Regions from separate parts of the Homo sapiens genome. Here region 2 is linked to region 1. A link means that fine-mapping ties the variant in region 1 to the expression of a gene that starts in the linked region. Tissue or cell type: whole blood. Region 1 holds a variant in brackets; the other region holds the start of a gene. All regions are shown on one strand. Distances are from middle to middle. Region 1 overlaps EPN2 (epsin 2). Region 2 holds the start of MFAP4 (microfibril associated protein 4).

Region 1 (4,383 bases):
AAGCATTATATAAGATGAACCATATAATTTTAAAATTGTAATAGGTGTACACCGTATTTGCCTATTTTGCAGAAAAAATTTTAAAGCAATTTCAAAAACTGTCAAGTAGAGGAAAGAGAACCAGAGTTCTTCAAAATCCCAGTTCTAATTCTAGCTTCTTCACTTACAAATGAGAGGATTTAGGGGAGCAAGTTCATGTCAGTTTCCTTATTAACCTCATCTGCCCTGCCTACCTTCTAGACAACTGTGAGAAGCAAATGGACTCCTCCTAAGAGAAGGCAAAGGCCCAGGAGAGGTGATCCAGATGCCTTCTGGTTGTGTTGGGCAACTGTCTGACTTTAGCAGCCCAGCCATTCACGAATCACATTCAAATCCCACTTAAAACCCAAGCCCTTGTGGCAAGAACGAGCATCTTTTATACCTGATACTTGGATAGATGTGTCAATAAATCTGCTGCCTCTGAGGGTGTGTTCATGTTACTGATCAGCTTCCTCCATGACTCAATTTTCCACCTGAAGAGATTAACTCTCTCTAGAGTAAGCTAACGCTGACAGCCCTGCTGTGCCTCTGCCCCTGGGACTGACTGCCAGCCGAAGATGCAGGGCTCCCCTGACTTACAGAACACATTTGTTCCACCAAAACAAGATGCCAAATGAGTCTCATCTCCCACCAAATTCCTGGTCCATCCCCAAAACCCAATGGAAGGGCCCTGAGGGCTAGACACACTCCCCACAGGTAGCTATCCCTGGCCTGACACTAGGAAATACCTGGCTGGTGGCCACCAACCACCTCTCAGCCCCGGGCGGGCCCTGCTGCCCTCCTAGTTCCTGGCAGCATCACTCAGCCCTGCACCTTGGAGCTCTGTCACCTCCCACACTCTCAGGAGACCTCAGCTGGCCCAGGATCCTTCCAAGGTCCACCTCAGAAGCACTTCTGACACGCTGGCTGGGTTTGGCTTTTCTTTTTTTTAACAATATATTTTCCCACATCTTTGAGTTTTCAAAAGTAGACCCATGTAGGACTCCCTTTTCAGATGCCTCCTTCTTACCAAAACACTCTCCTTTGTGTGTACATGTCTGGTGTAAGTGCACATGTGTCTGTGTGTGCGCATGCTTCAGCTCTATTCCCAGAGCTGGGCAAGCAGGGCTGAGGCCATGACAACTCTGGTTCACCCCTGAGGTTCCCTTGTTATGAAGACAGCTTCCGTAGAGAGTCCTCTGAGGGCCCACTGTGCCTGGGGACTTCCTGGACATACTCATGAAACAGCGCACAAGAAAGCTTTCAAATTCTACCAAGTCCCCATTGGGTTTAAGAATGAGGCCGGGCGCGATGGCTCACGCCTGTAATTCCAGCACTTTGGGAGGCCGAGGCGGGTGGATCATGAGGTCAGGAGATCAAGACCATCATGGCTAACACGGTGAAACCCCATCTCTACAAAAAACACAAAAAAAAATTAGCCGGGCGCAGTGGCGGGCGCCTGTAGTCCCAGCTACTCAGGAGGCTGAGGCAGGAGAACGGCGTGAACCCAGGAAGCGGAGCTTGCAGTGAGCCAAGATAGCGCCACTGCAGTCCAGCCTGGGCGAAAGAGCGAGACTCCGTCTCAAAAAAAAAAAAAAAAAAAAAAAAAAAATGAATGGCTGATAACCGTGGATAGCCTTGCCATTCCACTCCCTGAGAAATCCTGTTTCCCCTTAGATTCTTGCCAGGCCACTCGAGAGTGGAGGCATGGCCCGAAGGCCTGGCGGACAGCAGCAGCAGCTGTTGGGGTGATGCCGCAGGACAATGATCACGGCCACTGCTCCATGAAGTCCTGGGCAGGCTGCTTGACACTCTGGCCTTCCCAGCTGCACAGTATCAAACCAAATTTGGATCCATCTCTAGCCACTGTATACAATCCTGGCTTTTCTTTCTCACCTCTGTTTTCCTTTTGCCCCAATTTCTTCTGGTATCTATTGAATCCTGTGGCATTGCATGTGTTTTATAAGCCAACTCAAATCCTTTCTAGTAATCACTTGGCAAACCCTTGCCGGGTGGGGTGTGAGAGGAGCAGCCTCAGCACAAGGGGCTCTCAGCCCAGAGGACCAGTAGCCCAAAGGAATCCCTGTCATTTCTCTGGGAGCAGACTTGAAGCATACTACAGCCAGGGCCAGCGGCGTCAGCAAGACAGGAGGGGCCATGAGGAGAGCCAAGAAGACCCGGCTGCAGGCAGCAGCCCCCACCTGGTACAAAGCCCACCACTGCTTACTTTGGTTTCAGAACCCAAGTTGGTTCTGATTCACTTGAGTGAATCAGAAAGCAATGAAGATTTCTATTCTGCCTGCCTTCCTTTTTCTTTTTTTTTCTTTTTTTTTTTTTTTGAGAAC[G/A]GGAATGCTGGGCAGTTAAACTCCCACCAAGAACTGCAAGGTACCAGGCAACTCGGGACTTGCTCAGGGAGCATCAAGACAGCTGTAGCTCTGGCTCCGCAGACTCAGCAAGGGGGCTGAGAACACCAAGCTGAGCATTCCTTCCTTCCCTTACCCACCCTCAACAGAGGCCAGCCAAGGCAGAAGATCTGGCCCCTGGCCTTAGAGTGTCCTTGGTGAGAGGACAGCAGCAATCTTTCTTTCCATTCCTTGACTCAGGAATGCTTTTCTCATCCCCATCTGCCTCCCTTTGATGTAGGTTCCGTCTACCCCAAGAACTTCTGTAATTTCTCCAAAGCCTTTTGACACTGTGGCCAGTTCTGCAGAACAGAACAGGAAATGGTGGAAAGAGCCCGGGGGGCGGGTAACATGTGGGCTGCTCACCCCCACCAGGTTGCAGTTCAGGCCAGCTGCCATCTCTGCGTGATCTTAGGCAAATCCCTCAACCCCCTGGGCCTGAGGGTCCTCCTTTGGGCTGCGCAGCTTCTGCCCACACACAACTGTCCTGAGCACTGACTACATGCCAGGATCATGTGAGGGCAGCCAACACGGGTAAGCCTTAAGAGGAGCCAGCCTTGGGAGGGCAGCTGGTGTGTCTGAAATTACAAGACCACCAAGTAAACATGAGTGCCAGAGGCTAGGCATGGTGGCTCACGCCTGTAATCCCAGCACTTTGGGAGGCCGAGCTGGGCAGATCACTTGAGGTCAGGGGTTCAAGACCTGGCCAACATGATGAAACCTCATCTCTACTAAAAATACAAAAATTAGCCAGGCATGGTGACATGTGCCTGTAATCCCAGCTACTCAGATGGCTGAGGAAGAATAGCTTGAAGCCAGCTAGGCGGAGGTTGCAGTGAGCCCAGATCACCCCACTACACTCTAGCCTGGCCAACAGAGTGAGACTCCATCTCAAAAAAAAAAAAAAAAAAAACCATGAGCGCCAGGTGAGGCCGAACAGCTGACGGCTATAAGCACTGTCCATGCCCTGACAACTTCCAAAGTGTGCCTGCAGCCCAGAATTCTCCCCCCAACTCCAGACTTCTCAGACCTTCTTGACACCTCCACTTGCGTGTCTAGGAGACACTTCGATGTGTCCTGAACTCAACCCCTCCACTAACCTACTGCACCCACAGCCGCCCTCATCTCAGATGATGGCAGCTCTGCCTCCAGCTGCTCTGCTCCCAGCCCTCAGAGTCATCCTCAGCTCCCCTCTCACTCTGCCCAGTCCTCTAGCAAGGTCTGTCAGGTCATCTTTAAAACATACCCAGAATCGTCCAGGTGCGGTGGCTCACACCTGTAATCCCAGCACTTTGGGAGGCCAAGGTGGGCGGATCACGGGGTCAGGAGATCAAGACCATCCTGGCTAACATGATGAAACCTCATCTCTACTAAAAATACAAAAAATTAGCCGGGCGTGGTGGCGGGCGCCTGTAGTCCCAGCTACTTGGGAGGCTGAGGCAGGAGAATGGCGTGAACCCGGGAGGCAGAGCTTGCAGTAAGCGGAGATCGTGCCACTGCACTCCAGCCTGGGTGACAGTGCAAGATTCTGTCTCAAAAAAAAAAAAAAAAAAAAAAAAAAAACATACCCAGAACCTGGCTACTGCCCAGATTTCTGCAGCCCTGCCAGGTCCAGACCCCCACCATCTCCCACCTGGATGGGGACAGTGGCCTCCTGACCTGGCTCCCTGCTCCCACCTTGCCCATACACACCCCAAGGGATCCTCCTAACCCTCATCTTCCCCCATCTCACTGTGAGTGAAAGTCAAAGAAATTTCTGACATAAACCCAGAAGGCCCAGCACCGGGCCACTGAGTGCATGGTCTGCAAGGTAAGCACAGTGAAAGTGTTTCAAAAGCTCCTAGCAATGACATCGGCACAACATCTAAACATGGACACAAAAGGACCCGTCTGGATGGACTAGGAATTCAAGGAATGCTCCCAACCAGACAGAGTTGAGAGGCCCTGCCCCACACCTCCTCCA
Region 2 (4,383 bases), 96 kb before region 1:
AGGCACAGAGAGACTAGGTAATTTTTGCAAGGTCACCCAGCTAACAGGCAACAGAATCTAGATTTGAACTGAGGTAGCCTGACACAAGACACAACTATGAATAGAGGCAATCACAGAACCAAGTCAGGGAGGCCAACTGGGGCTTTGCCAAGGGGCTTATCTATTGACTCAGGAGTGGAGAGATGGGACCTAAGCCAGAGCTGCCTCATCACTTTGCCTTTGAATATTTCATCTGTTCATCCATTCAACACAAATGTCCTTTTGTAATACACCTTACATTTGCAATTCACTGTCCAAAACCTGTGCTTGCCACTCCTTGTGGGGCAGATACTGTATCCTCAGCAGCCAGCATAGCCTATAGCACACAGCGCTCAAAAGATATCTGTGAGCCAGGTGTGCTGGCCCTGTAGTCCCAGCTTCTTGGGAGACTAAGGTGGGAAGAACATTTGAGGCCAGTTCAAGACCAGCCTGGGCAACATAGGGAGACCCCCCCCATCTCTACAAAAAAATTAAAAAATTAGCTGGGTGTGGTGGCACACCTGTAGTCCTAGCTCCTTAGGAGGCTGAGGTGGGAGGATCACTTGAGCCCAGGAGCTTGAGGCTGCAGTGAGCTATGATTGCACTTGGGCAACAGGGCAAGGCCCTGACTCTAGTATCTTATCTATATATAGATATAAATACGTAAGTGACTGTGCATGTACATATCAAGCCTACTCTGTGCCAGGCTCTGTGATGGGCACTGAGCATGCAGAAATGAGACACACACCCTGCTCACTGGCCCTTATGGCCAACAAAAGGAGGCAGATGAGCGGGCACCACAAGGAGCAGCACAAAAGAGTGGGGACCTCCATGGTGAAAAGTCTGGAGTGGCTGCACTGTAGTTTATGAGTCACAGCAATAAGGGACAAGGTCCTCAAGGTAGGCCAGAGACAGACTTGAAATTCCTTTCATGTCCAAGGTGAGAAACCTAGCCTCAGCCCTGAGGCAATAGGGAGCCATGAGGCTTTAAGCAGGGTGACATAATCTGAGAGGCCATCTAGAACAACTCTCCTGGTAGTGTGCCAAGGATAGGAGGAGAGAGCCCAGAAGTAGGGAGATTCAGATGAATCTGGGAGGTGTGGGAGCCAAAGTGAAGGGTTTGGAAGAAGAAAGGAGGGGTGGAGTGAGGAGAAACAAAAGAGGTCCCATACCTATTGCATGTGAGCCAGATGGGCCAGGGAACTGTGGGAGGGGAAAAGAGTGGGCCTGAGGTGGCCAGAGTGAGGGGGGCTGGGGAGGGGGACTGGAGAGGGGCCCTGGCCTGAGCTGGGGCAGACAGAGCAGTTGGACGCCAGCAGCCTTGTGCTCATGGCTCAGAAATGTCCCAGGCCTGCCAAGAAACTGCTGCCTCTGTCCCCCCACCAGCCCCAGCCAGGCTCCCACATCAGGAGCTCTGAAACTGTCCCCTCAGCCTTCTGCTCCCCCAGAGCAGGCCTCCCGTCCCCAGAAGCCAGGCATATGACACCCCCACTCTCCCTCAGCCCTCCCCCTCAATGGCTGATGAAACACAGGCCAGGGAAGGAGGGGAAAGAATAAACAGACATCTGCAGGGGGGCCCATCAGGAAGTAGGGGGCAGGCTGCGGCGGGCTGGGGCTGCCTGGGGGCGCCAGGGGGCCCACAGGTCTAGCAGGGTGGGTGGCAGATGGCGGATAGCGGATGGAGTGGGATCCAGGGAACAGTTGGAGCCAGCAGGGAGTTAACGTCTGCAGTACTTTGCCCGACAGGACTAATGAGACACAGGTGGTCCCCTGGCTCCAGCCCCACCTCCCAGCCCCCTGATAGTGTAAACTGATGCTGGTTGTCTGGGGTGGGGAGAGGGGGGTTCTGCAGCTACGGGAAGGGGGGCGGGGCTGGGGCGGCTGGCGGGGGCCCAGCGCATAACTCTGGGCGGTTGCAGTCTGGGGCCGCAGACACCCAGCCACTCTGAGCAGAACTGACAGCATGAAGGTACGGGGCCCAGGGTCGGGGGACTCATAGCATGGGGGAACTGAGCCCACTCCAGAGGCCCCTGGCCACAGAGGGCACTATGAAGGCACAAGGAGTTCTCTTGAAACTCGTAAGCTATGAGGGTACACAGCGTCCCAGAGAGTGGGGTTACTTGGCGGGCGGGGTGGGGGGGCAGGGAAGAGGGGCCAAATAGCAGGAGAGGGATTCAGGCAAGGGCAGTATGTGCATGCATGGTGGGGGCAAATGCAAAGAGAACAGGGGATCTCTGGAGCTGGGAAGGGGCTGTGCTGACCCTGTCTGCCCATCGCCAGGCACTCCTGGCCCTGCCGCTGCTGCTGCTTCTCTCCACGCCCCCGTGTGCCCCCCAGGTCTCCGGGATCCGAGGAGATGGTAAGCAGCCCCACACTCACAGACGCGGCCTGGCCCACAGGTTGTGCAAGAAGAGGCTGGACTGTCAGAACAGACTGTCAGGGCCGAGCCCCAGCTCTGCAGGACTCAGGTTCCTCCTTTACAAAATGGGGCAGATGGATGACATAAGCATTGCTCATCTCCCTTGAAGAAATCTTCCATGACTCCTTGTGTCAAAGTCCCCCAGCCCCAGGGACTGAGGCAAACCTTGGGGTGCTGAGGTGTCAGTGATGCCATAGTCCCACTCTCCTCACTGTCCCCATGTCCCTACCCCCAGCTCTGGAGAGGTTTTGCCTTCAGCAACCCCTGGACTGTGACGACATCTATGCCCAGGGCTACCAGTCAGACGGCGTGTACCTCATCTACCCCTCGGGCCCCAGTGTGCCTGTGCCCGTCTTCTGTGACATGACCACCGAGGGCGGGAAGTGGACGGTGAGTGGGAGGAGGGAACAGAGGCCAGAGCTGGTTCTAATCCCAGCCCTGTGACCCTGGGCTTCACATATGCGAACCTCAGTTTCTTCATCTTTAAAATGGGGATAATGATACCCACAGCACAGCTTCTGAGCAGCTGCCAACGCTTAATTCTAAGTGCCTGAGGTAGGTGTTTGTTTGTTTGTTTTGAGGCGGAGCCTCACTCTGTCATCCAGGCTTGAGTGCAGTGGCTCCATCTCAGCTCACTGCTGGAAACTCCACCTCCCAGGTTCAAAAGATTCTCCTGCCTCAGGCTCCCGAGTAGCTGGGATTACAGGCATGTGCCACCATGCCCAGCTAATTTTTTTATTTTTAGTAGAGATGAGGTTTCACCATGTTGGCCAAGCTGGCCTTGAACTCCTGACCTCAGGTGATCCGCCCGCCTCAGCCTCCCAAAGTGCTGAGATAACAGGCGTGAGCCACCGCGCCCAGCTGAGGTAGGTTAATGCACATAAGCCTCACAATAATCCTGGGAAGTAGTGAGGAACTAAAGCCCAGAGAGGTGAAGTAACTTGCCCAGATCCCACAGCTAGGCACTCGAACTCTAGAACGCCTCCCTCTTAGCCTCTTTCCTGCCTCTATACGAAACTGGGTATGAAGAGCCCAGGTGGGTGCTGGCAACTGCTCCACAGGGGGCCTGGTGCCAATGTGGACGTTGTTTTAGCAACCCCACTCCCACCACCCTCCCCACCCCCAACCCAGTCCTTTAACAAACTGGCCACAGCATCACAGGGTCCATGCTTGAGGTGGGCAGGGCAGGACCAGAACCTTGCCCATTGGACCCTTGATGATCCAGTCTCATCTTCTCTGCTCCAGGTTTTCCAGAAGAGATTCAATGGCTCAGTAAGTTTCTTCCGCGGCTGGAATGACTACAAGCTGGGCTTCGGCCGTGCTGATGGAGAGTACTGGCTGGGTAAGGCAGGGACCAGGTGGGCTGAGGGGCTGCCCCAGGGCCAGGTCCTTGTTGACCAGCTGCCCCTCCTCCCCAGGGCTGCAGAACATGCACCTCCTGACACTGAAGCAGAAGTATGAGCTGCGAGTGGACTTGGAGGACTTTGAGAACAACACGGCCTATGCCAAGTACGCTGACTTCTCCATCTCCCCGAACGCGGTCAGCGCAGAGGAGGATGGCTACACCCTCTTTGTGGCAGGCTTTGAGGATGGCGGGGCAGGTATAACCCGCTGTTAGCTTTGGGAGGGGCTGTGAGGGGAAAGAAGGCAGGGCTGGCCCTGCCCAGTCAGCCCCAACCTCCTTCAGGCCCCTCCTTCAACCCTTCTGGATCTGGAAGGGCCACAGCTGGCTCCAAACAAGCTCAAACCAGCTTGGGCCTCAGCCCTGGGGAGCAGCCATCCTGGCCCTGCTCCAGGCAACTCTGTGGTGGAGCAGCTGTTTCTCTTCATTGCAGAAGCACATCAACCCAACATCTGGCTCAGGGAGGGTGCCCCCATCCCGCCAGGCTGCCACGTGATATCTCTCACAGTCGTCATTGTCACCCTCTCCCGGCCAGCTCGGGGCT

Evidence for each region. PIP is the estimated chance that this variant, and not a neighbour inherited with it, causes the effect.
Region 2: MFAP4 starts here. The variant in region 1 is the best candidate, but not a certain one, in a credible set for the expression of MFAP4 in whole blood (TOPMed, PIP 0.75).

Annotation. Positions count from the first base shown.
Region 1 is chr17:19,288,675-19,293,057 of GRCh38, reverse strand. All of the region lies in intron 4 of EPN2 (epsin 2), which reads right to left. Among named protein-coding and RNA genes, the nearest start is that of EPN2-AS1, 15 kb to the left of the region's middle. RefSeq lists an enhancer at 2,845-3,438. The variant G/A (reference allele first, on the strand shown) is at 2,364.
Region 2 is chr17:19,384,754-19,389,136 of GRCh38, reverse strand. MFAP4 (microfibril associated protein 4) reads left to right here and starts at 1,947. Exons shown (of 6, transcript NM_002404.3): 1 at 1,947-1,987; 2 at 2,299-2,377; 3 at 2,673-2,827; 4 at 3,683-3,779; 5 at 3,856-4,038. The coding sequence starts at 1,982. RefSeq lists enhancers at 2,022-2,567, 2,568-3,113, 3,114-3,659.